Linked DNA regions of Homo sapiens: regions 1, 3, 4 and 5 are each reported to be linked to region 2. Evidence: microRNA targets listed by miRTarBase, many of them from high-throughput screens and not tested one by one. Region 2 holds a microRNA gene; each other region holds the end of a gene's coding sequence.
What was found. The annotated mature microRNA hsa-miR-508-5p reads UACUCCAGAGGGCGUCACUCAUG and lies in region 2 at 3,139-3,161, opposite strand. An mRNA with a match to its seed (bases 2 to 7 or 8) in the 3' UTR can be bound and repressed. Matches are read on the target gene's strand: a 7mer-m8 pairs with bases 2 to 8, a 7mer-A1 pairs with bases 2 to 7 and ends in A, and an 8mer does both.

Region 1: the mRNA of A1BG is a reported target of hsa-miR-508-5p. Seed matches in the 3' UTR shown: 7mer-m8 at 1,537-1,543 and 7mer-m8 at 2,588-2,594.
Region 3: the mRNA of MIGA1 is a reported target of hsa-miR-508-5p. Seed matches in the 3' UTR shown: 7mer-m8 at 3,273-3,279.
Region 4: the mRNA of LYZ is a reported target of hsa-miR-508-5p. Seed matches in the 3' UTR shown: 7mer-m8 at 4,290-4,296.
Region 5: the mRNA of RILPL1 is a reported target of hsa-miR-508-5p. Seed matches in the 3' UTR shown: 8mer at 3,434-3,441.

Annotation. Positions count from the first base shown.
Region 1 is chr19:58,342,331-58,348,226 of GRCh38, reverse strand. A1BG (alpha-1-B glycoprotein) reads left to right here. Exons shown (of 8, transcript NM_130786.4): 7 at 587-874; 8 at 1,198-3,044. The coding sequence ends at 1,205. ZSCAN22 (zinc finger and SCAN domain containing 22) reads right to left here. Exons shown (of 3, transcript NM_181846.3): 3 at 5,895-5,896. Among named protein-coding and RNA genes, the nearest start is that of A1BG-AS1, 6.7 kb to the left of the region's middle. RefSeq lists enhancers at 136-215, 432-932, 986-1,265, 933-1,433 and a silencer at 406-735.
Region 2 is chrX:147,233,842-147,239,737 of GRCh38, forward strand. MIR508 (microRNA 508) reads right to left here and starts at 3,186; the gene lies at 3,072-3,186. All of the region lies in intron 2 of LOC105373347 (periphilin-1), which reads left to right.
Region 3 is chr1:77,874,471-77,880,332 of GRCh38, reverse strand. MIGA1 (mitoguardin 1) reads right to left here. Exons shown (of 16, transcript NM_001416120.1): 16 at 793-5,487. The coding sequence ends at 5,269. Among named protein-coding and RNA genes, the nearest start is that of NEXN, 11 kb to the left of the region's middle.
Region 4 is chr12:69,351,935-69,357,830 of GRCh38, reverse strand. LYZ (lysozyme) reads right to left here. Exons shown (of 4, transcript NM_000239.3): 3 at 5,533-5,611; 4 at 3,597-4,678. The coding sequence ends at 4,612. Among named protein-coding and RNA genes, the nearest start is that of YEATS4, 4.9 kb to the left of the region's middle.
Region 5 is chr12:123,468,130-123,473,877 of GRCh38, reverse strand. It overlaps RILPL1 (Rab interacting lysosomal protein like 1), which reads left to right. Exons shown (of 7, transcript NM_178314.5): 7 at 1,196-3,824. The coding sequence ends at 1,340. It also overlaps a transcript of SNRNP35 not described here. Among named protein-coding and RNA genes, the nearest start is that of SNRNP35, 13 kb to the right of the region's middle. RefSeq lists a silencer at 4,782-5,076.

The DNA of each region.
Region 1 (5,896 bases), not on the chromosome of region 2:
GCGCACGCTGCCACGCCCGGCTAATTTTTTGTATTTTAGTAGAGACGGGGTTTCACCGTGTTACCCAGGCTGGTCTGGAACTCCTGAGCTCAGGCAATCCGCCTGCCTCGGCCTCTCAAAGTGCTGAGATTACAGGTGTGAGCCACTGCGCCCGGCACCTTAAATACACTTTTAAAGTTAAACTTATGGAGGGAAAACCCTCATCTATTGACATAGATTGTATGTCCTTTTTTGGTCCCTCCATGAAGGAGCACCGTTTTCTCCATCATTTCTTCTTCCCTTCACCCGTCAGAGTGACCGAGGCTGGGGACCCCAGAAGCCCCAGAGCAGGCCCGAATCTGGGACTTCCACGGTCCTGGGGGAGGGGTGCGGGGACACTCACGTGTGGCGCGGATGTCCGGGGTGTGAAGGCAGCGGGCGCAGCTCGGCGGCGCCGGAGGAGCCCTCTGCGCCCAGGAACAAGACAGGGAAGATGAAGCCGGGGCTGAGGCGCAGGCGCGGGCGCGGCCTGGGGTGTGGCCTGGGGTGTGGCCTGGGGCGTGGCCTGGGGCGTGGCCTGGCCCGACCACCCGCCCGCTCCGCCCAGGACCCCCTCCCAGGCCTCAGCTCCGGGCGACGTGGAGTGGGGCGGTCCTGGCGGGCCGAGATGCCGTCCTGCGCTGCGAGGGACCCATCCCCGACGTCACCTTCGAGCTGCTGCGCGAGGGCGAGACGAAGGCCGTGAAGACGGTCCGCACCCCCGGGGCCGCGGCGAACCTCGAGCTGATCTTCGTGGGGCCCCAGCACGCCGGCAACTACAGGTGCCGCTACCGCTCCTGGGTGCCCCACACCTTCGAATCGGAGCTCAGCGACCCTGTGGAGCTCCTGGTGGCAGGTGACGTTTCCCTGGGTCCCGGGTGCTGGTTCCGTCTGCTGATGTTTGCCTGGGCTGTGCCCACCTCCAGGAGGGCCTCTCCCGGCTCCTCCCTTGGGCACCCCTGGTTAGCGCTGGGTCTCCCCAGGGCTCGTGGGGGAATTGCGGGCGAGGAACCGCCCAGCAAAGGCCCTGCAGCTGGAGGCGCAGATGGGGGTCTCGGCTGGCAGCCGACCACGCGCTTCCTTCCGGGGGGGCGTCAGGGAGGTCGGCCTTGATTTCCGCGAGGAGGAGGGCATAGGATTTCCCCTCCTCCACCATTTCTCTTTTCTCCCGTTGTCTAGAAAGCTGATGCAGCCGCGGGCCCAGGGTGCTGTTGGTGTCCTCAGAAGTGCCGGGGATTCTGGACTGGCTCCCTCCCCTCCTGTTGCAGCACAAGGCCGGGGTCTCTGGGGGGCTGGAGAAGCCTCCCTCATTCCTCCCAGGAATTAATAAATGTGAAGAGAGGCTCTGTTTAAAATGTCTTTGGACTCCCAGGGCTGAGTGGGCTGGGATCTCGTGTCCTCAAAGTGGATGGGTTCTGGGGTGGCTCCTGAGGTAGAGGAGTGGAGAACTGGCTCTTAAGAGCACAGTTTTCTTTTCTTTTTTCTTTTTTGAGACAGGGTCTCACACTGTCACCCAGGCTGGAGTGCAGTGTTGCAGTCCGGCTCACTGCAGTTTTGACCTCCCAGGCTCAAGCGATCCTCCTGCCTCAGCCTCCCAAGTAGCTGGGAGCCTGGGCATGCATCGCCACGTCTGGCTAATTATTATTTTTTGTAGACAGGGTCTCACTGTGTTGCCCAAGCTTGTCTTGAACTCCTGGCCTTAAGTGATCCTCCCACCTCAGCCTCCTGAGTAGCTGGGACTACAGGCATGAGCCACCATGCCTGGCCAACTCACATTTTTCTTTCTATTATTTATTTTTTGTAGAGATGAGTCTCACTATGTTGCCCAGGCTGGTCTTGAACTCTTGGGCTCAAGTGATCCTCCCGCCTCAGCCTCCCAAAGTGTTGGGATTACAGGTGTGAGCCACAGCACCTGGCCAACCAACACTTCTCAGGGCCTCTTTCATCTGTGCTCTTCCAGGATGCTGCCTCTTACTCCCTGGGCACCTCGGCCTGGTCCCAGCAGGTATGGGCAGTTGCTTGAGGCTCCAGACATACTCACCTCTACCTCGACCACATCAACCCCATCACCAAGAGGAGGTTCAGGGAAGCTGCATTTTGTGGTCTTGTCCTCCCAGTCCAGGGTGGTAGTGCTGGGCTGTTCCCAGCCTCCCACAGCAGAGCTGGACGCTGTGGAAATGGCTGGATTCCTCTGTGTTCTTTCCCATTATCCCTCAGCTCTGAGTCCTCTTGTGCCATCTGACATCTGATGCCTTCCCAACCACTGCCGAGTTTCTGCCTGGAGCAGGGCCTCAAGGCCCTGGCACACAGAAGATGCGTATCAGTATTATCAACCAATAGTTGATGAATTGTGTTTTTCAACGAATTTGCTAGTGATCTGGTTTACTGCCTTAGTAATATCTAGTTCCTAATATGCCTATGCCTTTTAATGTCTGCACAGTCTATGATGATGTCACTTCTCTCAAGCCTGATGTGTCCTCTCTCTCTTTCTTGCTAGTGGTTTATCAATTTTTAAAACCTTTTCTTGTTTATTTGTTTTTGAGACAGAATTTTGCTCTTGTTGCCCAGGCTGGAGTGCAATGGCGTGATCTTGGCTCACAGCAACCTCTACCTCCTGGGTTCAAGTGATTCTCGTGCCTCAGCCTCCTGAGTAGCTGGGCTGACAGGCACCCACCACCACACCCAGCTAATTTTTATGTTTTTAGTAGAGATGGGGTTTCACCTTGTTGGGTGGCCAGGCTGGTCTCCAACTCCTGAGCTCAAGTGATCCACCCGCCTCAGCCTCCCAAAGTGCTGGGATTACAGGGGTGAGCCACCACGCCCAGCCCCAGCTTAGTTTTTTAAAAAGTTTATTTTAGCCATTCTAATAGGTATGTAGACATATCTAATAGTGGTTTTCCTTGCGTTTCCTTAATGTCTGATGATGTTAAGCATTTTTTCCCCAAGTGCTTAGTTGCCATCTATATAGCATCTTTGATGAAATGTCTGTTTATATATTTTGCACACTTTAAAATATTGGGTTGTTTTCTTTTTTCTTCTCTTTTCTTTTTTCTTCTCTTTTCTTTCTTTTTGAGAGAGTCATGCTCTGTTGCCCAGGCTGGGGTGCAGTGGCATGATTTCAGCTCACTGCAACTTCCGCCGCCCAGGTTCAAGCGATTCAACTCCCTCAGCCTCCTGTGTAGCTGGGATTACAGGCATGTGCCACCACACTGGCTGATTTTTGTATATTTAGTGGAGAGGGGGTTTCACCATGTTGGCCACACTGGTCTTCAACTCCTGACCTCAAGTGATCCACCTGCCTCAGCCTTCCAAAGTGTTGGGACTACAGGCATGAGCCACCGTGCCTGGCCTGTTTGTTTTCTTACTATTGAGTTTTGTTTGTTTGCTTTTGCTTTTTTTTTTTTTTTCCCGAATCTCACTCTGTTGCCCAGGCTGGAGTGCAGTGGTGTGATCTCGGCTCACTGCAACCTCCGCCTGCCAGGTTCAAGCAATTCTCCTGCCTCAGCCTCCGGAGTAGCTGGTACTACAGGCACCCACCAGCATGCCCGGCTAGTTTTTTGTATTTTTAGTAGAGATGGGGTTTCACCATGCTGTCCAGGCTGGTCTCAAACTCCTGACCTTGTGATCCCAACCGCCTCAGCCTCCCAAAGTACTGGCGTGAGCCACCGCACCCGGTCATTTTTTGTATCTTTAGTAGAGACAGTATTTCGCCATGTTGGTCTCAAACTCCTGAGCTCAAGTGGTCTGTCCACCTCAGCCTCCCAAAGTGCTAGGATTACACTGCACCTGGCCTCCAGCCACATTTTTTTTCTTTTTTTTTTTTTTTTTTTGAGACAGAGTCTTGCTCTGTCGCCCAGGCTGGAGTGCAGTGGCGTGATCTCGGCTCACTGCAAGCTCTGCCTCCCAGGTTCATGCCATTCTCCTGCCTCAGTCTCCCAAGTAGCTGGGATTACAGGAGCCCACCACCACGCCCAGCTAATTTTTTTGTATTTTTAGTAGAGATGGGGTTTCAACATGTTAGCCAGGATGGTCTCCATCTCCTGCCCTTGGGATCCGCCCACCTCAGCCTCCCAAAGTGCTGGGATTACAGACGTGAGCCACCGCGCCCAGCCGCCTCCAGCCATATTTTAAAGATAAAATAATTGTGCAATCTCTATTACTATCATTTAATTCCCAAAGTTCCCGCTTTCCCTCTGGTATCATTTCCCTTCTACCAAGAGTTTCCTTTGGCATTTCTTTTCAGGCAAGTCTGCTGGCAAGAAATATATATCTTAGGTTTGTTTCATTTGAGGATGTCTGTATTTTGCCTTCGTTCTTTAAGTGTGTTTGCACTGGATATAGAATTCTGGGTTGACGGGAGGCGGAGCTTGCAGTGAGCTGAGATCACACCACTGCACTCCAGCCTGGGCAACAGAGCGAGACTCCATCTCAAAAAAAAAAAAAAAAAGAATTCTGGGTTGAGTCTTTTTTTTGTTTGTTTTTGAAATGGAGTTTTGCTCTTATTGCCCAGACTGGAGTGCAATGGTGCAATCTCGGCTCACTGCAACCTCTGCCTCCTAGGTTCAAGTAATTCTCCTGCCTCAGCCTCCTGAGTAGCTGGGATTACAGGCACCCGCCACCACGCCCGGCTAATTTTTTGTAGACACGGGGTTTCACCATGTTGGCCAGGCTGGTCGCAAACTCGTGAACTCAGGTGATCCACCCACCTCGGCGTCCCAAAGTGCTGGGATTACAGGTGTGAGCCACTGTGCCCAGCCTTTTTTTTTTTTTTTTTGAGACAGAGTCTCACTCTGTTGTCGAGGCTGGAGTGAAGTCACCCAATCTCGGCTCACTGCAACCTCTGCCTCCCAGGTTCAAGCAATTCTCCTGCCTCAGCCTCCTGATTAGCTGGATCTACAGGCGTGTGCCGCCATGCCTGGCTTTTTTTTTTTTTTTTTTTTGAGACAGAGTCTCGCTCTGTTGCCCAGGCTGGAGCGCAATGGTGTGATCTTGGCTCACCGCAACCTCCGCCTCCTGGGTTCAAGCGATTCTCCTGCCTCAGCCTCCTTAGTAGCTGGGATTACAGGTACACACCACCACATCCAGCTAATTTTTTGTATTTTTAGTAGAGACGGGGTGTCACCACGCTGGTCAGGCTGGTCTCGAACTCCTGACCTCGTGATCCGCCTGCCTTGGCCTCCCAAAGTGCTGGGATTACAGGCGTGAGCCACCGTGCCTGGCCAATTTTTTGTATTTTTAGTAGAGAAGGGGTTACACACCATATTAGCCAGGATGATCTCAATCTCCTGACCTCGTGACCTGCCTGTCTTGGCCTCCCAAAGTGCTGGAATTACGTGTGATCCACTGTGCCCGGCCCAGGCTGGCTAATTTTCGTATTTTTTGTAGACAGTTTCACTATGTTGCCCAGGCTTGCCTCGCACTCCTGACCTCGTGATCCGCCTGTCTTGGCCTCCCAAAGTGCTGGGATTACAGGTGGGAGCCACCGCACCCGGCCTCTTCAAATGTTTTCTATCATAAAGAACGTGTTAGCACTTCCAAGTACACTTAAGGTTTCGTCAGTTTCTCACTGTGATTCTGTTCTACAAGACTCATATTATGTGCCTGGTTTTGAACTATTACATCTTCCTAATAGATTGTTTCTTTTATAAAAACATAGTGACCCCATGATTCTTAAAATGCTTTTATACCTTAATGTCTGTTTTGCGCGACTAATGCAGCTCCATCAGCTTTCTTCAGTTTCATGCCTACCTTGTATATCCTTTTCTATCCCTTTGCCCTCAACTTCCCATATCCTTGTTTTAGGTGTATCTTTTCTAAAGAACATATGGCTGGTCCAAAAAGAAATTCAGTCTGTTAGAATTTGTCTTTACACTTGGTT
Region 2 (5,896 bases):
AAAATAAAATCTAATCCATAGTGAATAAAAGCAGATTAGTGGCTGCATGGCTCTGTGGTTATGTGCAGAAGACCGAAAATGAGGATCACAAAGAGGCAGGAGGAATCTTTCAGGGAGGATGTATAATATTCCCTATTTATTTTGATTTAGGGGATGATTTCATGGGTGTATAAACAGAATATGTCAAAGCGCAAACTTTATGTCAGTCATGTATCAACGACGCTTTTTAAGAACTAAAGCTATCACAATACAAAAATCTCAAAATAACAAACACATGCTCATACACACAATTCAAAAAAACCATATAAGCTAAAAAAAAAAAATCAATCAACAAATAATGCAAATTATCCCTAACAAAAGAAAGAAATTTTAGCCTTATGTACCAAAACTTCTATAAATGATTTTTTAAAAAGTAATGAATCAGAAAAACAGGGCACAAATAAATAAAAACTAAAAAGTAAACCAATAATATATTTTTAAACCCCTATCAACAATCATCCCAAATTAGAAAAGCTCAACAAACAGGATTAAAATAAATAAATAAATCAACTACAACAAATTCCAAACAGAATCAATACATGAACTTATCAATTAGAAAGCATGTTGCAAATACCAAACCATGTAAGCATACACACAGATACTGAGGCAAAACATTTAAAATCCAAGCAAACTCCCACAACTTAAAAAAAAAAACACATCCCCAATAAAGCGCACATATATATGAAAGACAAAACTTTCTGAGCCCCACACAATTAAAGGGGAAAAAATAACTACAGCAACAAAACAAAATTCATACAAATTTAAATATCCCAAAACACAAGGAAAATGAAGAACCCCCCCCCCCCACACACACACACAAAATAAAACAATAAACACAAACTGAAACTAAAAATACATGGAAAATAACAAAATACTTTAAAGAAGTCAACATCATTCAAAAATAATCACAGAAATGCACGCATACACACCCACATCCATCCACCCACCCACCCACTCACATATACACACAAAAAGTCAGCTGAAAAGCAAATAGAAATACACTAGAGAATAAAACAAAGAAAGATATAGCAAAACAGCAGGAAAGAAACAAACATGTCTAAATACACAAAGGAAACTACAACTAAAACAACTCCCAAGCACCTCTCAGTACAAATCAAACCAAACGCATAAATTAAAACCAAATCAAAACCAAAGAAGAAAACTCAGATTGGAACCAACAACTAATAATTAAATCATGACAGCCCCCTCCCCCCGAAACAGGAATAAAACATTTGCTGAAACACAAACCACAATTCTAACTTAAAAAAAAAAAAAAACTTCAAGTATGCAACGAAACAACAAGCAGAGGTGCCATGAACACTGAATTGCAAACAATAAAAAATCACACTGTACCCCCAAAATATGTACAATGATTATGTGTCAGTTAAAAATAATAATACAAGCAAACAAAATAAACAAATAAACCTAAAAAGGAAGAACCAACTTTGAAAAATAAATGCACAGAGACTGGAAATGAAAGGACAATTATAAACAAAATAATATCACAAAAAACAAAAACAAAACCAAAATCAGACAGTTACCAATGTCTGGATAAACAATATTACTAAGCAAAAACAATTTGAAAAGTCCCCCCAAACCCAACCACAATATGCACATGAACGAATCAACTAACTAAATTAACTCATTTGTAAAAACCAACACACACATACTCACACACAAACTCACACCTTCTCAAAAATAAGCACAAATTTGAGAACAATTTGCAGTGGTGCCACTGTCACTGCCCCAGACACACATCTAGGGTGGTGAGACTTTCTGCCCAGGAAAACTCTTAGAGCTCATGAAATAGGGAAGAAGATACCATGAGCAGTAGACACTGGTTGTACACAGGCGATAATGTAGTAGTATTAGTGATATAAGAGAAGAATACCCTTCCTCTTGATTACAATCTAAATTTTTGCCAAGATTTGGAACGGAGTGAGACATGTCACTGACTCGAGATGACAACAAAATTCCATAAACTTCAACTTGCCCACTTAAGGTGCTTTATGAGAATTAATCCGGAAGGGGTCACCAGGATGATTACCCTCCAACCCCACTCCACCTCCATTTTTCCAGCACCGTAGTGTGTACAACCTGCTTCCTAGTCACTGCTCCAGTCTGAAGATGTTCTCCAGGGATCCGGCGCTGGCCATCTTTTGTCTGTGATTCTCAAGTTTTCTTTCTGAAGACCTTAGGTTAAGAAGGAGCAACTGAAGGGAAGTGGAAGGGAAAAGACAAATATATATGTTATCATTCTCAATAATCTGAGATGAATACCTTCACTTCTTTTTATTCCTTCATATAATTTTAAAAATAAAATGTTAAATATAATTCAAAGAAAACTAACAAAACAAATATTCTAGGCAACTTCTTAACCTTTTATAGATATGTTGAATTTAGAAAGGACTGATATACACATATTTTCAATAAATATTTTTTAAAATATACATATAAATATTTTTTAAAAATATATACATAAATATTTTATATATATATATATTTTTTTTTTAACCAACAGATAGATAATTTTGGAAATAATGTATTTTTCCAAGTAAGGAAGAACACACAAACTCTTAAGGAAAGGCTTGTCTTCAATCCTGAAAGAGCAAGAGCTTTTTGGTGCAGAGGGATGCTTCTGAGGCAGGAGGGAATTTGAAGAGCCCACTGGGAAATGAAAAGGCTTGGAAGCTAAAAGAAATGTTGTGAGGAAAAATACGTTGGAGGTTTTTCAAGGCAAAATGAATAGTTGGGCTCTGTAGCAGTAGAAGCTCTGAATATAAAAAGAGGAAAAGCCACATCCTCACTACAAATTTTCTTACCTGTGTGGGCATGCCTCCTTTGGACAAGGGTATATAAATCCCCGGAAAGCCTACATGGGTGATTTTTCCTGGGAGCCCTCAGTCCCTAGGATTTGCCTTTCAAGACCTGCCTATGGGAGTCCATTGAGTTAGCCCAGCAAGGGGAGGGTGGTGCTTGGACACAAGGGAGGGCAGCTCTGTGCATGCGGCTGTATACACTCACACCCATGGCCACCAAATATGCGTTACGTGATGTGTATTACTCTACTCCAAAAGGCTACAATCATGTTTTAGTTTACATGAGTGACGCCCTCTGGAGTAGGGCACTACACTCAGCTGAAGGTGGTGGCTCTACCCAAATATATACGTGAAGTTTAGATACGATGAAGAATTTCTAGTATGTTTGCCACTCCATTCCCATTCTCTAACCATCCTTTAGTGAGGATACTCTTACTTGCTGCATATTTCATGTGCTGATTTTGAGGACTTCTTCTCTTCAGTCGGCAACAAATAATCTCACCAACATTTTCCTATGTATTTTCAAGTCATTAGGAATGGCATATTAAAAATGATTTGTGTTCCACCAGTGTTAAAGGTCTCCCCACCCTCTGTGCCCCCAAATTCCTAGTCCCTTGGTTCAGAGTTATTTAACTTTTAACACCAAAACAACAGAGAGAACAAGGTAAACATGCAGAGAATTCAAGCAAAAGAGATAGATCATTTAGGCAGTGCCAGGATTCATAGGACAAAAATCTCATTTTCTCCACCATTCCTGGGGATTATACAGATCATTTACCTTGCCTGGAATCATTTCCAAGAGAGCAATTGGCTTAGAACCTAGTTATATCTTATTCTTCCTTCTCAGCCCTGGACTTTCTCAACATTTCCTAGAGTTCTTGTCAAGAGGGTCTCTTTCAAAATTTTCATTTGGAGACACAGGCCTCCCAGGAATCTATTTTTTCCTTTCAATACTGAGGCTGAAGAAAGGGGGAAGCAAGTAGGAGTAAGAGATCCACAGACCCCAAACTAGTTATATTTTAAGAGCTAGGGAGCCAAGTTAAACAAAAGACTGTAAAGAGAGAGGGAGGTGCACTGAATAAATTAAAGGATTAGCTAAATTACTTGCCATGGAGCAAGAGAAAGGGAGATTATGGTGTGGGACATTTAATCTGGACATGTCCAGGTCTCCCAGCATTCAGGAACCTCCACCAGTGTCAGTAGTCCAAAATGACCCAAGTCTACAGCTACACACCAATAAATCAAAACTCAAACAAAAATATTTCTAAAATCAATTCTACCTCATAAATAAGTGAAACAATGCTCAATATCACTAATTAGGGAAATGCAACCAAAACCACAATGTGATACGACTTCACACCCATTAGAATCAATATTATCAACAAGCAAACAAACAGAAAATAACAAGTGTTGACAAGTGAAGAAATTATAACCCCGTGCATTGCTGGTAGGAAAGTAAAATGGCACAGTCACCACAGAAAACACTATGGTGGTTCTTCAAAAAATTAAAGATATAATTACCATATTTCAGCAATTGCAGTATTGGGTATATACCCAAAAGAACTGAAATCAGTATTTCAAAGGGACATAGTGCCCCCATGTTCAAAGCAGCATTATTTATAATAGACAAAAGGTAGAAGCAATACAAGTGTTCATCAACAGATAAAGTGATATGCAAACTGTGGTATATGCATACAAGGAAATGTTATTTGCCCTACAAAAGGAAATAATTTTCTTTTTAAACTGGGTTTCCTTATGTTGTTCAGGCTAGAATCTAACTCTTGGACTCAAGCGATCTTCCTGCCTCAGCCTCTTGAGTAGCTGGGACTACAGTCATGTGCATACATGTCCAGCTTAGAAATAAAATTCTGACACATGCTATAACATGGATTAACCTTGAAGACAATATGCTGGGTAAAATAAAGCAGTCACAAAGGAATACTACTGTATGATTTTATTCTATTCAGTCCCTGGAATAGGCAAACTAGGAGAGACAGAAAGTAGAATAGAGGTTACCAAGAGCTGGGAATGGGGAGTCAGTGTTTAATGGTTACAGAGGTTTAGTTTGGGATAATGAATCATTTCTGGAGATGGATTGTGGTGATCATTGCACACCACTGTGGATTTACTTAATTCCACTGAATTTTACACTTAAAATGATTAAAATGGTAAATTTTATGTTTATATACATTTTACAATTAAAAAAAAATTAACCTCCAAATAATTCCAAATACCTCTGAAAATATAAGAACCCACCCCCAAAACAGATACCAAAACTAAAACAATCAGTAATAAAGCAAAAAAATACGGCCACGAAGCAAAATAAAACCACTCTAAGTAGATACATGTTGTACAGTGTTAGCAACACTAGTAGATAAAATAGAAGATACTTCCTCTTCTTGATATTAACCTAAATTCCCATTTAAGGTGGGCAACAAATTTCCTTTAAAAGAAGTTATGAAGTAAACCGCCTGGTGTGGATTAAAAGAAGAGATGCATCAGAAAGCCCCATTTCCTAACACAGGAAGGTAAAATATATAACCCGATTCCCAGACAAGGTTCCTATCTTGCTTATGGTCACCAGGCCTCTGAGACTTAAAGCTTACAGCTCTCTTTTGTGCTCTTTGTACTCTCTCACTCTCTCTCTCTCTCTCTCTCTCTCTCTCTCTCTCTCTCTCTCTCTCCCTCTCTCTCTCTCTCTTCTCCTTTCTGTCCCATCCACGAGGTTAAGTGGAGACATCAAACAGAAAATGTGATACAAAAACTCACTTAGCACTTCATCATTATAAGACTCTCTAAGGACTGATCCCACCTTGACATTATTCTTTTCACATATAAACCTGAGGGAAAAAGTAACAAAAGTACAAGTGTCAGAAAAGAATAACCGTTTTGGGAAAATTGAATTATTTGGTAATATCATATAAGATCCAAAGTATATCCAAAGGAACTGAACACTCGTAGGTCTATGAAGAAAGAAGTGGCTTCAACCCAGAGATTCAATAGAATTTTTAAAACAACAACTTTATTGCAGTATCACT
Region 3 (5,862 bases), not on the chromosome of region 2:
TCCTGACCTCAAGTGATCTGCCTTGCTCGGCCTCCCAACATGCTGGGATTACAGGCATGAGCCACTGCACCCGGCCATATATCTGAAGCCTTTTGAAGAATTGATGAGAAGAGAGGTTCAGGTCATATATGAATAGTAATGATGCATATACATCAATATATCAATATAAGTTTATATTATGCTTGATGGCATTATCATCCAAACACTTAAATTAAAATACAAGTATTTTCACTTTATTCATCACAAAACTGTCTTTTTCCCCATATCAGTACATGGAGAAACAATAAATTTTTAATCTTTGTTTTCATTTTTTATTTTTTTGAGACAGAGTTTCGCTCTTGTTGCCCAGGCTGGAGTGCAATGGTGCACTCTTGGCTCACTGCGACCTCTGCCTCCCAGGTTCAAGCGATTCTCCTGCCTCAGCCTCCCAAGTAGCTGGGATTACAGGTGCCCACCACCATGCCCAGATAATTTTTGTATTTTTAGTAGAGACGGGGTTTCACCATGTTGGCCAGGCTGGTCTCGAACTCCTGACCTCAGATGATCCACCCGCCTCGGCCTCCTAAAGTGCTGGGATTACAGGCATGAGCCACCGCACCCGGCCTTTTATTTTTTATTTTAATGATAAAGTTTTATATTTGATTATAATGCTTCTGCAGTTGTCCTGTTCTCTATGCCATATATATGGGTCTTATGGAGACTGAATATTCTCATACAGGATCTGATGAGACAAGTGTGACTTCATAATTATATATTAACATTGTTTAAAATATTCAATACATCAGCAAGACGTACCATCACTTTTTTATTTGGCAGTAATAGTAATACATCCATGTTACAGTGCTTATTTTGGCTAAAGAGCCAGTGCAATTTTTTCTGCTACTGTAGTGTTTTACTTTTACACAAATTAATGAGTACAGTCCTTACATTTAGGAGACAGAAACATTTACTGACATCAGCTAAGTAAAGCTAATACATGGTTGTTCACAAACTAAACAAAACAATAACATAATATACTCATTAGGAACAAAGTAGGGATGTTCTTATTTCCACTAATCACAGATTATATAAATTCTTAAATTTCACATACATATTTCTAAATCTAAGCAAAAAAATTAGAATTCAGCTTAATTCCTATAATCATTTTGAAATTTACATCAAATAATTTCTGAATATATATTCACATTAAAATAAAAGTAAATGGGTTATATAAACATAATTTAAAATTTCTGATTATGAAAAGTTATAGAGAAGTACATTAAATGTTACTTTGGCATTCCTATTTCCTAGGCTTACAGGAATTATTAAGAATTCCTTTGTAATGCAAATAATCACTCTCTTGGAAATTAAATTTAAGTAGAAAATGTTACATTTTAAGGCAAGAAAACATTTGTAAATATTTTTATAAAGGCATTTAATTCAACAAATTAACGGAATCATAGTAAATGGATGCAAATAAAGAATATTACTTTATGAGAAAGACAAAGTTCTTTGGAGCTTACTGTGACAGTATGGAAAACTTGTCTTCTTTTTTAAAAGATAATTCCATTTTGATACTTAATAAACATAATGTTAACCTTCAAGAAGAAATAAGCACTCTTAGTTGAACAAAAATGTAGGGAAATTAAAATACAAAAAATGAAATTAAAAGAAATACCAAATGTAAATTGCCTCAAAATTTATCTTCTTTCTTCTAGAAAAAAGGATATTTTCTCAGGAGTGACTTAATTGAAGTCCCTCTTATAATTTACATATGGAAGTGGATGGTAGAGCTCATGGTGGCAAGGGCAATTCCATGATTAAGTGTTTAAACAGGGTTTACCCTAAAAGGCTCTAAACTAATCATTTTTAAAGACATTGCTTTTGCTATTTAACCCAATTTTAAGGCAAATGGAAACCGTTACATATGTCTTTTTTTTTTTTTTTTTTTTTTTTTTTGAGACAGAGTTTTACTCTTGTTGCCCAGGCTGGAGTGCAATGGCACGATCTCGGCTAACTGCAACCTCCGCCTCCCGGGTTCAAGCGATTCTCCTGCCTCAGCCTCTCGAGTAGCTGGGATTACAGGCATGCGCCACCATGCCTGGCTAATTTTTGTATTTTTAGTAGAGATGGGGTTTCACCATGTTGGTCAGGCTGGTCTCAAACTCCTGACCTCAGGTTATCTGCCCACTTGGGCCTCCCAAAGTGCTGGGATTACAGGCGTGAGCCACTGCTCCTGGCCTGTTATATATGTCTTAAGTACCCTTCTGCATGCAGTCAGAAATGTTCTTTTCAAGAGGACATTTCCTTTAAAAAGTTCAAGTTTCTTATCTTACGATAAAGAGATATTTCCTATACTTATTGTCCTAAAATTCTATTTGGTCACTCTTACCTCTTTTGTGAAAGGCCACATCTTGCTAAAGTAGCAGCTACTGAACTGACCAGAAACAAACTCAAACACTGAATTTGACAAACCAACCTGCTGAATATAAGCAACTTTTTCTAAGATGAAATGTAAAAAAGAAAAAGAAAAAACAAAAAGCAACACCTTCTAGAAAGCCATTCATCTTATCTCATAAAATTAATTCCCCAGAGTTATCTCATGTAGTAGCAGCATTATCAAATAGTGCAATTCTTCAAAATTGATTTCAAATAATATCTTTCTAAAATAAATTACATTTACTTACAGCTTTGCTTATAAAACCACAGCTTAAAACACTTAGCCCTCAAATGGGTAAATTACTATAAGCAATAACTGTCTTGTCTACATGGTAATGAAATGCACGTGCACGCACACATGTGTGTGTGAAGGCCAAAGATACCGCAACAAGGTAAAAACATGTAATATTAAATAAAAAGTAAACAGTACATAATGGAATTTTTAGTTTTGGTACTTCTAATCATATTCCCGTCAATAATAAGAACTATAAATAGGTAATTGTTAAATTAAGCATCTATGTAAGAAAAGGCAAGGAGCTATATACTAAAGAACAGTGATAATTTGTATGTTTCATGCTATATAACCTATAAAGTACATGCAAAACAGCATGATCCTGAATTCCATATTTTATAGTTAATTTACATAAATGTGGCACATACAGAAAATTACAAATCTTAAAAGATTATGCTTTTCCCGCCCACTTTTTTCATCTTCTATTTATTAATCAGAAACTAGGCACTTTAATCTAAAAATTCGCTTTTTAAAAATGCATTTTAGGAGTAAGACATGGTGACACATGCCTCTGGTATGAGGAGTTGGAGACTGCAGTGAGCTATGTATGATAGCACACTGCACTCCAGCCTGGGCAATAGAGCGAGACCCCATCTCTTAAAAGAAGGCAAAAAACAATGCATTTTAGGTCCTTTTGTGCAACTCACTCCTAAAATGACTAAAGCCCGTTTTAGGGGCAAAATCAACAAATCTCATCTACTTACATACTGAGTTAGTCACTCCAAATAAGTGGTATATTATTTAGAAACAAAATTAATACAACTCTGAAAGCATTTAATATACTCTTATAGAAGAACTCCACCCATAAAAACAATTCATTTGTTTGTAGATTTATCATAATGAACATGAAATATATACTTCCACATCATTAAAAAATATTTTTGTTTTACATTCCAGGGAGGAAAAAACTCTTCTTTAAAATGTCAATAAGATTCAAACTATGAATATTTTTAAAACATGGGCATAATATGACAAATTCCCACTGGGCTGAGTTTTCTGTGGGAATAACTAAAAGGAAGGAGAAAGGAGAAATTATTTCACTGTACCAAGTTTCATACCTTCAGATGTTGACAGTCTTCAAATAACACTAAATTTTAAATTGCCTTTATTAATTAATAAATGTTATCTTTTTAATCAATACTCATTCCAGGGGAAAATGCTCTAATGTATAAAAAGAAAGTTCTTCAGTCTCTTTGTAACTTACAGGACCAACAGTAACATATTTTGGAAACTACAGTTAATATAAATTTGTAAATTGTAAATTTCTCAATGTCAATTCATTTAAATGCTGTATTTGTTTTATTTATTCACTTCTGAGATAGGGTCTTGCTGTCGCCCAGGCTGGAGTGCAGTGATGCAATCACAGCTCATGACAGCCTTGACCTTCTGGACTCAAGTGATCCTCCCACCTCAGCCTCCCAAGTAGCTGGGACCACAGACACATGCCACCACACCCAACTAATTAATTTAATTTAATTAATTTATTTTTTGAGACAGAGTCTCACTTTGTTGCCCAGGCTGGAGTGCAGTGGTGCGATCTCGGCTCACTGCAGCCTCCACTTCCTGGGTTCAAGCAATACTCCTGTGTCAGCCTCCCGAGTAGCTGGGACTACAGGCGCCCGCCACCACACCTGGCTAATTTTTGTATTTTTAGTAGAGACGGGGTTTCACCATATTGGGGAGGCTGGTCTCGAACACCTGACCTCAGGTGATCCGCCCACCTTGGCCTCCCAAAGTGCTAGGATTACAGGCATGAACCACCACACCCAGCCTATTTTTATTTTTTAAAAAAATTTTAATATTTCCATGGAACTCTGCTTGATACCAGCTAATTTATTTTTATGTTTTTGTAGAGACAGGCATCTCCTTATGTTGTCCAGGCTAGTCTCAACCTCCTGGCCTCAAACTGTCCTCCTGCCTCAGCCTCCCAATGTATTACAGGCATGAGCCACTGCAAGTGGCCCATTTAAATGTTCTATAACAATATTCAGTGATTACAATTTCTTTGATTCAAATACATAAGCAAATGCACAAGCAATAATGTATGCAGTACATATTAAACATCATTACTGCCTAAACTTGATTAAACAAATGAATAACTTTATAATTAAAAATATGTTTCTAGGCAAAGTTAAATATATTGACATTAGAAGTAATATATTCTTGCATGTGTGGGCCACAAAGACCTTGGCTAAAGTGTACATTTTAAAGGTGCAAAGCATAAAAACAGAGCTTTTGAGAATGACAGCTTCAAGAAGACAAACCAATTAACTCCCAAATATTGGCTTCAATTCAAGCGATATTTCTGTAAAATATACATTTCATGACTTCAATTATTACCTAATGAATGCAAAAAGCCACTATGACTACACTACACAGGAATTCAATGACAGAACTTCTGTATAAATACAGTACAGTTGCTCATTTTTTAGTAGATTTTTTTTTCCTCCCTGAATCCACATGCATCAATTCTGTTAACTTTGTAATATATGTTACAAAATCAATAGTTACCTTAAAATATTTCATAGCACACTCAAATTGTATGATTCTTATGGTACTTATTGTACTTTGGCTTCCAGTAGCCCAGTGGACATAACATGACCATGACTGCTTAGACAACTACTTGTATGCCTCAGGGCATCTGCTTCAAGATAGGCCATTAAAAGCTCAGTGCGGCGAATGAGTAACTGCATGAGGTCTTCAGCTAAAGTCTCTGTACTTGAATAGCGCACCTTCTCAAAGTCAAAAATGTCTTTGAGAAATAAAAGAACTTGATTCTGGAAAATGAACATAAATTGGCATTTATTAGACCAAAATTAAGTTACATTGAGAAAGCTTCTAATATTATAATGAGCACTGAATCAGGACTCAGAAGACCTGACTTCCAGTGCTAGTTTCATATCTCATTAGAAAAGGGACCTTGCACAAGTGATTTAACCTTTCCTTTTTGGGGGCTCATTTTCTTTTTCTGTGAAATAGGGCTAATACCACCCACCCTACTTACTACTCAGGGATGACATGATGATCAAAAAAGATAACCTATGTGATACCATGAAAAGGTGGGGAAACATTTAAAAAAAGATAATCTATAAGAAGTGCCTGTAAACTCTAAAGCACTGTTTAAATGTAAGGGGTTATAGTCCTTTCCCTTC
Region 4 (5,896 bases), not on the chromosome of region 2:
TCTGTTTCTCAGCTGTCACTCTTCAACTCTCTCTCCGCTACCTTGACTCATCCTTTGTACACCTCAGGGTATCTCGATATGCATAAACTCATTCGTTTTTAGTTTAATCACGTCAGAATGGTCCAAGAATTTTGAAGCCAAAGGTTGCACCTATGTAGTGGCCCTCTGCTGCCCTCACATGGCTAGTCTATGTGCTGCATTTACATAGCCAAGAAGTGGCTTGGAACCCCGCAAGCGGTTGTACTGGAATCATGTGGCCTTGAAGAGTTAATTAAAAAAAAAAAAAAAAAAAAAAAAAGGCTGGGCGCGGTGGCTCGCGCCTGTAATCCCAGCACTTTGGGAGGCCAAGGCGGGCGGATTACGAGGTCAGGAGATCGATCTCCTGACATGGTGAAACCCCCTCTCTACTAAAAATACAAAAATGAGCTAGGCGTGGTGGCGAGTACCTGTAGTCCCAACTACTCGGGAGGCTGAGGCAGGAGAATCGCTTGAACCCAGGAGGCGGACGTTGCAGTGAGCTGAGATCGCGCCACTGCAGTCCAGCCTGGGTGACAGAGCGAGACTCCGTCTCAAAAACAAAAAGCTTAGAATGTTCAGTTTGGAGGGAACATACTAAATAATCAGCAAGAGATTTATTCGATCAACTGATATTGATTGAGCATGTACCATGTTCCAGTCACTCTTCTAGGTGTTTAGAATACAGAAGTGGAATGAGTGAAAAATTTCTATTCTTCCTATCAGGACAGTGGTTCAGCATATTATAAAATCAGAGATGTATCATGGTAAGGAGGGTGTCCAGGTGTTGGGGAAGGAAGCAACCCACTGAGGGATGTCAGAGCCTGAGTGGAGAGCACTTGGGCAGAGTTGGGGAATTGGTTACATACAGGCAAACCCATCAAATACGTAAATGTACTAAGGATACATTTTAAGGATAATGAGTATAATGGATGCTAAGTTACTTACTGTCAGAGAAGAGAGTTAAAACATGCGAAAGAAGAAAACTAGAGTGAATCCTGTGGTGTGAGATTAGAATTGGAGATATTGGTGTGGATTCATGATTTTCAATATAAATAGATAGATATAGAGATAAATATAGTGTAAATACATATATCTTCCAGCTCTGTTCACTGATAGGGCCTGGAAACAGTGATACCCTAGTGCCCAGATCCTGTTTTTTTAATACTATTATGCACTTTGAGGAATCAGGGCTCCTTGGAGAAATGCCTTTTCCATTTTTGGAAGCAAGGAAGGAACAAGGTGAGCCTTAGAATATCTTGTGCCAGAAAACAAGAAAGTGCTTGAAGAATGATGGAAATATGTCGAAATGGCACAGAAGACAACTTGCAGGGGCTCACTGGCCAAATCGAGGACAGTGTGAACATCAAAATAAATAATAGTAATGGACTATAACTCCTTATGATTTGAATAAAATAGAAGCCATGGGTCCATACTGATATAATAAATAAATGCATGACCAGGCACGGTGGTTCACACCTGTAATCCAGCACCTGGGAGGCCAAGGCAGGCAGATTGCTTGAGCTCAGGAGTTCCAGACAAGCCTGGGCAACATGGCAAAACCCCATCTCTACTAAAAATACAAAAATTAGCCAGGCATGGTAACGCGTGCGAGTAGTCCCAGCTACTCAGGAGGCTGACGCGGGAGGATTGCATAAGCCTGGGAGGCAGAGGTTGCAGTGAGCTGAGATCGCGCCACTGCACTCCAGCCTAGGCGACAGAGTGAAATCCTGCCTCTAAATAAATAAACAAACAAACTGAAAATTTGATGAGCAGTAGTCTCAAGGCACCTCCTCCCCAAATACTTTACAGTGAAGATGGCTTGCAGGCCTCACCTTAATCAAGTGATCCAAGTGAACATCATCAATAATGGGGCAAATCAAAACTGCAAAAACTGAATGCCACCTGAAAGGATGCAGTGAGAACATCACTTCTGTGGTATTCCTACCAAAGATGCATAACTTAATGGAATCGAGAGAACACCAGAAAAACCTTAGGTACATTCTATAACATAACTAGTCTGTGGTCTTCAAAAGTGGCAAGGTCATAAAAAGTCCAGAAAGAAACAACTGAGGAAATAATCCAGATTCAAAGAGACTTAAAAAACATGACAACCAAATACAATATGATTCTGAATTAGATGCTTTTGTTATGAAGGTCTTATTGGGACAATCGATGAAATTGAGTGGAATCTGATGACTAGGTGGTAGTAATGTATCAGTGTTAATTTCCTAATTTGGATAATTGTTTTGAGGTTTTATGCAGGAGAATGTCTTTATAGGAATTACACACTGATGTAATCAGGGCCATTGGGTATCATGTTGGCTATTTACTCTCAAAACAGTTCTGAAAAATAAAAGATCTTTGTACAGTACTTTTATATTTTTTAAAAGATTGAGTTTATTTCAATGTTTTTTTAAAAAGTGGAAAAACCTCTGTCATTTTGGAAGTTATATTTTGGTGAGAAGAGACAAATAAGTAAAATATGTAGTATATAAAATTATTATAGACTTGAGCCCTGAGGCACTCTCACATTTAGAAATTAAATAGCAGAGAAAGAGTGAGCAAGAAGGACTGAGAAAGAACAGTCAGTGAGGTAGGATGTAAATAAGGAAAAGCCAAGGGATTAAAAAACTGCTAAAAGTATGAAGCGGTTCACTTTGTCAAATGCTGCTGAGATGAACAAGATGATCACTGGAATTAGCACTGAGGAATCATGGGAGAAATCCTGGAGGAGCAGTTTCAGCTGGGTGAGGATAGAAGCCAGATTAGAGAGGGTTGAAAAGACACTGGGAGGTGAGGTCATGGAGTTGGTAAGTACAGACATACTTCCCCAGAAGTCTTGCTGTAAAGGGAGCAGAGAATGGAGTTGCAGTTGGAGGATTATGTAGGGTCAGTGGAGTATTTGTTGTAAGATGGAAGGTTACTAGGGCAGACTGTAGAATGATGGAGGTGATCCAGCTAAAAGGGACAAACTAGGGATGCAGGAAACAGCCTGACTTGGAGTAGTGAGAGGGATGGGAGGGAAACTGCATGTGGAGTCAGTGCTGTTGGCAGGAGCAGAGGCTCTTCATCCTGATAATAGGAGGGAAGGAAGGAAGGATGGGCCTGTGGGAAGGTATGACTGCTGCTTTGGGATGTAGAAGGGAAAGCTTGGTATGAAGTTGCTTTTGTTTTAGAAGTGTAATATGAGGCCAGGTTATCTGCTGAGAGCAGAGGAGGGTGGAGGATAAGGGGGCAGAGGAGGAGGCTGAATGTGTGTCTTGAGGCTTTGAAGAGAGAAGAGGAAAAGTAAAATAGTAACAGTCATTTTGGAGACTAGGGACATAAAAATGGAAGGATTGTAGAGAAGTAACTAAAATGGTCAGGCAGACTTGAGGGCTCATTTGAGATTTATGGTTATGAATTTAAAGTGAGACCTGTCAGCATGCTTGTGAATTTTTCTCCAGCAATATCTGACTATTTAAGTGAGGTAAGTGACGATATAAGAGATATTAAGAGCACCAAATCATATTTTTTCAAATATCTGTATTCTTTTCTTCAGAGACACTATAGGAGTCTAAATAAAAACAGACAAGGCATGTGTTGCAAAGCCTTTAATTAGAATGTTTGTATTTTTTACATCATGCATAACTTCACATTTGTGATTAATTAGTAATTATTTCAATACTTGTAAGCTCATCTGCCTCAGATTTAATCATAATACATGAATTAAATTAATCAAATTAAGGAACAGCAATTTAGAAAGAAACACACTTTAAGAAATCAAAATTCTCAATTCAGGCAGTCTGTTTCTATCATTTGGTATTCTACTCCTTTAAAAATTTCATATTGCCCAACAAAAAGTGGTTATTTTTACTGTTTTTGGAGATGACTGAACAGATGAAGGCATCAGATGCCTTCATCAGCTGGTATTTTGCCTAAGATCTATTTAAGATAACCTTTTCTTATATTTTTTACTTAATATTGGGCATAATCGTATCATTCAAGATTAAGTCTGGGTTATTTCTTTGATAAGAACTGAATGTGGCCGGGCGCAGTGGCTCACGCCTGTAATCCCAGCACTTTGGGAGGCCGAGGTGGGTGGATCACAAGGTCAGGAGATCGAGACCATCCTGGCTAACACGGTGAAACCCTGTCTCTACTAAAAATACAAAAAATTAGCCGGGCGTGGTGGCGGGCGCCCGTAATCCCAGCTACTCGGGAGGCTGAGGCAGGAGAATGGCGTGAACCCGGGAGGTGGAGGTTGCAGTGAGCCGAGATTGCGCCACTGCACTCCAGCCTGGGCGACAGAGCGAGACTGTCTCAAAAAAAAAAAGAACGGAATGTACTGGAGATGTATTTGATAACCAAGGTTTTAGGTAAATTTTCACCAGTATTAGTTCTATTTGCAAACTGAAAAATGTTGTAGGCTTAATGTAAAATAACCACATTAGTGAACATTATATCTCTTAGAAGAAAGGCCATATTTTGCTCCTGCTTCTGTAAAAATATTATTTGTTTGAAGGGGAAATAATGGTAGTGTGACCTTTCACTTAATTCCTACTCCCTTAATGTGAGAGAGACAAAATGAGCTGAAGAAGGAAAATTCTGGAGTTACACTCCACAACCTTGAACATACTGACGGACATCTCTGTTTTGACAACGATTTCTCCATGCCACCCTGTAGAAAAAGATGAAGCAAATGGTGAAAGGTTAAAACATATCTTCATTGTAATATACATACTTCGCACTCCTTGGGGAAACAAAATATTTTATCAATAGATAAAATAGTAAGATAGACCCAGCTATTGCTATTTATTAAATGAAGATATGTATACAAAATACTTCACTCCTACCCAAATTTCTCAGTAGAGCATAGAATGCCGAACATAAAGATTGAGTAATGTGCGTTGTACAGCAGCAACTGCAAAGTGAATTCCACATTTATTTTTTATGTATTTATTTGAGACAGAGTCTCACTCTGTCGCCCAGGCTGAAGTACAATGGCGCAATCCTCTGCAACCTCCACCTCCCGGGTTCAAGCAAGTCTCCTGCCTCAGCCTCCCGAGTGGCTGGGATTACAGGCACCTGCCACCACACCCAGCTAATTTTTTGTATTTTTAGTGGAGATGGGGTTTTGCCATGTTAGGCAGGCTGGTCTCGAACTCCTGACCTCAGGTGATCCATCTGCCTCGGTCTCCCAAAGTGCTGGGATTACAGGCGTGAGCCACTGTGCCCGGCCCACACTTACTTATTCTAAAAAGAATTTCAAGATATGACAAGGAACTGATAGAGTGTGAAGCATCTTAAAACTCTAGAAATCCCCTAAAATAAATTGAGGAGTAAAAGAGTAAGATTCTGGATCAGTTAAAGTAGATTGTTTCTTCAAGGATGTAGGTAATACATCATTTAGCATAAGCCAAAAGCTGCAATTTTGAGGTGTCATTAGCATACTTTGGTCTTTAAAAGTCTGCTCTCATTGTATATATCAACAGTAGAGTAAGATAGTTTTCCCTTTTAACACTTAAAACATACCATGCTCTAATGCCTTGTGGATCACGGACAACCCTCTTTGCACAAGCTACAGCATCAGCGATGTTATCTTGCAGCAAAGCTGAAAGACAGGTGGTAAGGAATAAAAACTTTAATAGATATTTTATTTTAAATTTAGGTTTAGCCAGCTTTTTTCTGTTAGGCTGTGGAAAGAATGGTAAGATATTATTTTCTATGAGTCCATATATGTGTAATTGTTGGGGAAAACTCTCTTCATTCTCTCCCATTCAGCATGAAATGAAGCATTTTTTTCTTCATTTACCAAAGTCATTGGAAGCTCTGGAAGTATTAACAAAATGATTAAAGGTCTTCTTTGCACTAGACACTGTAAAAAAACACCTAGTGA
Region 5 (5,748 bases), not on the chromosome of region 2:
CCTTGCAGGCTTTTTGCTTGTGACTTTTTTTTTTCTTTTGTTTTTTTCTTTCTTTTTTCTATGGTAACAAACTCAAGTATGCTTATGACTTCTGCCTTTATCTTTCAGGCATCTGAAAGTTCCTGATGGCTCTCTCTGATCAATATGCAACAGTCACAGCTGTTTTAAAAAGACCTCTGTCTACCTCAGTTAAAGTCTGAGGCCAGACTAACTGTGGCTCTGTAGCTGGTTACAGTGATACGGCCTAAAGGCTTTCACCATTAGATCTATTTTTGAAAGTGCAAATGGATGTTTCCCTAATTTTATATCAGAGAACCATGCGTACCATGTTTTACTTATATATATATATTTATTTTATTTTTTTAGACAGAGTCTTGTTCTCTTGCCCAGGCTGGAGTGCAGTGGCGTGATCTCGGCTCACTGGAACCTCCGCCTCCCAGATTCAAGCGATTCTCCTGCCTCAGCCTCCTAAGTAGCTGGGATTACAGGCGTGTGCCACCACACCTGGATAATTTTTGTATTTTTAGTAGAGACGGGGTTTCACCACGTTGGCCAGGCTGGTCTCGAACTCCTGACCTCAAGTGATCTGCCTGCCTCGACCTCCCAAAGTGCTGGGGTTACAGGCGTGACCCATCGCGCTCAGCCCATAGTATATGTTTTATTGTTCATTTTTCTTAAGTACTTCCTTTAGCCTCATCTAAGCAGTAATGTCCATGAAATCTGGGCCACAGTTTCCTGACTGACATTAAACAAATACAGAACTATTTAAATTAGAAATACTCATTCGTTTACAACAGAATCCTCTTATATTCCACACGGTTTTCAAGTATTCCTTTCTCTGCGTCATTAGGGTAATTAAAGAAACCCAAGATTTGTTTCAGCAGCTTTTGATTTCCACTGGTAACGGGATAAATCCTCCATAGCGGCTAACGTGGAAGACACCTCACACATCACATCAGCATGCATGCCTTGCCCATACCGCGTGACCTCCAAGGTACCGTGTCCAAATGACACGCAGAATACCCTGCTGCTTTCTTGGAATAACTTTGACCTGCACCCCCAACTTTGTCTTTCACACCTTGAATTGATTTGCTCCCTTCTAAGTTTGCTGCTATATGTCTCCGGCATTGCAAAAAACGTGACTTGCACAGCAAAGGGTCAGCTCTCATTTCTGTGTTTGCTTTCCCTTCCAAAGGTTTAGCTTCTTCTCCCGAGATAAGAAGCGCCTGGCCAACACACAGAGAAACGTGCACATCCAGGAGTCCTTTGGACAGTGGGCAAACACCCACCGCGATGACGGTTACACAGAGCAAGGACAGGAAGCCCTGCAGCATCTGTGACCTTGGCCCATCTCCACCCTCCAACCTGGACTGCCCGCCACCAGCGCCTGCAACCGAACTGCAGCCCAGGGGTCATTGCTGCCTCAAGCCTCTCGGTGCAGATGCACCCTGAAAACTGACCCCTCAAACAGACTGTCTGATTTGAGGATGGACATTGAAAAACTGACGCCAAACTCTAAAGAAATGTTTATTTATACCCAGGGCTATCACTGTTTCTAATAGATGACTCTGATCCCGTAGGATATATATTTAATAATCCCACAAACGGAGGCCAGACTTCTGCGTTAACTTCAGTAACACAAGCTTCTTTAAGCCAAATACATCACTTGCCACTATCATTGCTGTTTGACTTGCTTTGTATAAAATGCTATGTGTAGAGGTTTTATTATCACAGGTGACATAGTTCAGCAGGAGGCATGGAAGGGCTAGATCTTCATTAGTTACATTCATGAAATTGTGATGGTAACGTATTATACAGAATGTATCCATCAGGCAGACAAGGGGTCTGAAGTCACAGGCTCAGTAGCCCAACTCAGACACAAAGCCACAGACAATATGGATGATGGTCCTCTTACCCAGAAACTGGAGACAACTTTGCAGGCACCCTGGCTGCGTTCCTGATAATGCCTAGAGCATGTAGCAATGTTCAAGGCAGGTGCCTTGGAATCTGCTGTGAGTTATGCAGTACTAACCAAACAAAGTTGCTAAGGATGAGATGTTGCAACATTTCTTGTGTGCACTTTTTTTTCCTGACATCTTTTTTTCCTTTTAGGATTCATTAAGTCATATACTTAGTCCCCTGCAAAGAAGAAGACAGATGTCCCAGAGCAGACTGAAAGCGGGGCGTGGGATCCTAGGCAATGCAGGAGGGCAGGTGGGGGAGCTGTAGCAGAACAAGGGTGCTAGGTGGGAAGCTGGCTTGGGGACCACACGTCTGGCTGACTCACAGGGCTATAGCAGCAGACAGAGAGCCAGATGCTCTACTGCAACTGGTGAGTTGGAGGCTTGCCCACATAACACTGTCTTTCTCTCCACCCGCCAAGCATCCAGGGCACAGGGCTGGTTGCTCACAGATTGAGCGAGGTAGCACCTCCTACCAGCACTCAAGTTTATCAGGGCCGCGTTCTAAACATTCTACTGAAGTTTGCTAAGAAACCATTAGGTGAGGCTGGGCACAGTGGCTCACGCCTGCTATCCCAGCACTTTGGGAGGCCGAGGCAGGTGGGTCACTTGAGGTCCGGAGTTCGAGACCAGCTTGGCCAACACGGTGAAACCCCATCTCTACAAAAATACAAAAAAATTAGCCAGGCGAGGTGGTGCATGCCTATAATCCCAGCTGCTCAGGAGGCCGAGACAGGAGAATTCCTTGAACCTAGGAGGCAGAGGTTGCAGTGAGCCTAGATCGTGCCATTGCACTCCAGCCTGGGCGACAGAGTGAGACTTCATCTAAAAAAAAAAAAAAAAAGAAAGAAAGAAACCATCAGGTGAATTTGCAGAATCTAGAATGGACTCTGCTTCCAGATTGCCGAAAAAAAGAAATGATCAGACAGGGTAATTATTGCTGCGTTAGAGCAGTGTTTCTCAAACCTGAGTGCCCATTAGAATTATTAGAATTTATTCTCAAAGAGTATAGAAGCAGGTATACTGATGAATTTCTCTCCCACCCCTGGCCACCTTTGTTGCCCTTCCAACAGGTAACCAAAATTGCCAGTTTCTTGGTTATCTTTCCTAAACACTAAATGTCTCTCTTTTTTTTGAGATAGTCTTGCTCTATTGCCCAAGCCAAAGTATAGTGGCACCATCTCTGCTCACTGCAACTTCCGCCTCTTGAGTTCAAGCAATTCTCATGCCTGAGCCTCCCAAGTAGCTGGGACTACATGTGTGTGCCACCATACCTGACTAATTTTTGTATTTTTAGTAAAGACGGGGTTTCACCATGTTGGCCAGGCTGGTCTCGAGGTCTCGAACTCCTGACCTCAAGTGATTCACCTGCCTTGGCCTCTCAAAGTGCTGGGATTACAGGTGTGAGCCACTGTGGCTGGCCTTTTTTTTTTTTTTTTTTTTGGACACAGGGTCTCACTCTGTCACCTAGGCTGGAGTACAGTGGCACTATCATAGCTCATTGCAGCTATGAACCCCTGGGCTCAAGCAATCCTCCCACCTCAGCCTCCCAAGTAGCTGGTACTACTGATGTGCACCACCATGCCCAGCTAATTATTTTTTGTAGAGACCAGGTCTTACTTTGTTGCCTAAGCTGGTCTCAAACTCCTGGGCTCAAGTGATCCTCACACCCCAGCCTCCCAAAGTGCTGGGAATTCAGGTGTGAGCCACCGTGCCTGGCCAAATGTCACTTTTTTGATAAGTCAGCAGATCCAGCTCTTGAGCACATCAGAGGCTAGATAATCGGGACAGAAAGGAAAAATCAATCCATCAGAAAGTTTATACATGCAATTATGTAAAATAAAATCAAGAACAAAAAGCATATATATATGTACATGTGTGTATATATTCCTTCTTTCCTTTTTTCTTAAGGGACAAGGTCTTACTATGTCACCAAGGCTGGTCCCAAACTCCTGGCCTCAAGCAATCCTCCTGCCTCAGCCTCCCGAGTAGATGGGACTATAGACATGAACCACCATACCTGGCCCTCCTTTTTTTTTTTATTTAAATGGCAGCATAATATATTCATGCTGTTCTGTGCTTTTCTTTTTTCCCCTTGAAATATCCTAGAGAGGGCCAAGGTGCAGTGGGTCACACCTATAATCCCCATATTTTGGGAGGTCAAGTAGGGAGGATCACTTGAGCCCAGGAGTTTAAGACAAACCTAGGTGACATAGCAATAACCCACCTCTACAAAAAATTAATTAAAATAAAAAAATAGGTGGGTGTGGTGGTGTACACCTATGATCTCAGCTACTTGGGAGGCTAAGGCAGGAGGATCCCTTGAGCCCAGTTCAAGGCTGCAGTGAGCTGTGATCACACCACTGCACTCCAGCCTGGGGGACAGAGTGAGACCCTGCCTCAAAAAAGAAAAAAAAATGTATAGCAATAACTCCATATGAGTACATAAGACAGCGGCTCTCATGGCCAGGAGCAGTGGTTCATACCTGTAATCCCAGCACTTTGGGAGGCTGAGGCAGGCAGATCATGAGGTCAGGAGTTTGAGACCAGCCTGGCCAACATAGAGAAATCCCATCTCTACTAAAAATACAAAAATTAGCTGGGCATGGGGGCATGCGCCTGTTGTCCCAGCTACTCAGGAGGCTGAGGCAGGAGAATCGCTTGAACCCGGGAGGCAGAGTTTGCAGTGAGCGGAGATCGCACCACTGCACTCCAGCCTGGGCGACAGAGCGAGACTCTGTCTCAAAAAAAAAAAGAAAAGACAGTGGCTCTCAACCACGGATGACTGAGCCCCCCAGGGGACATTTGGCAGTCTGGAGACATTTTTGATTGTCACAACTGGAGGGGGAGAGAGGATACTGTCATCTATGGGTAGACACCAAGGAAGGTGCTAATGAACATCCTACAATGCCCTGGTCTACCATATGGGGGTGATATTTATTAATGTTTATCTAGGCCCCACTGATGGACAGGTAGCTTCCTTCCAATCCTTTACTCTCAAAAAGTGTTGCACACTGTCACACACACAAAAGTCTACAGAATAAACTAGAAGCAGAATTGCTAGATCAAAGAGTATTTGCTTCTGTCATGTTCATGGAGACTGCCAAAGTCCCTACCATGGAGGCTGTACCATTGTTTTTCTTTCAAAGTCACCACAGCCCATAGAACACTAAGCCCAAATGTACAGGGTTGGAGTCTGAGTGTGCAAGTTTTTTGTTTTTTGTTTTGAGACAGGGTCTTACTCTGTCACCCAGGTTGGAGTGCAGTGGCACAATCTCAGCTCACTGCAACCTCTGCTTCCCGGGCTCGAGCAATTCTCCAGCCTCAGCCTCCCAAGTAGGTGGGACTACAGGCAAGCAAAACCAACACCCGGCTAATTTTTGTGTTTTTCGTAAAGAGAAGTTTTCACCACGTTGCCCAGACTGGTCTCGAACTGCTGAGCTCCAAGCCATCCACCTGTCATGGCCTCCCAAAGTGCTGAGATTACAGCCGTGAGCCATCACGCCCAGCCTCAGTGTGCATGTTTTCTTTTTTTCTTTTCTTTTTTTTTTTTTTTTTGAGACAGAGTCTCGCTCTGTCGCCCAGGCTGGAGTGCAGTGGTCCGGTCTTGGCTCACTGCAACCTCCGCCTCCTGGGTTCAAGCCATTCTCCTGCCTCAACCTCCTGAGTAGCTGGGATTACAGGCACCTGCCACCACGCCCAGTTAATTTTTGTATTTTTAGTAGGGATGGGGCTTTACCATGTTGGCCAGGATGGTCTCGAACTCCTGTCCTCAGGTGATCTGCCC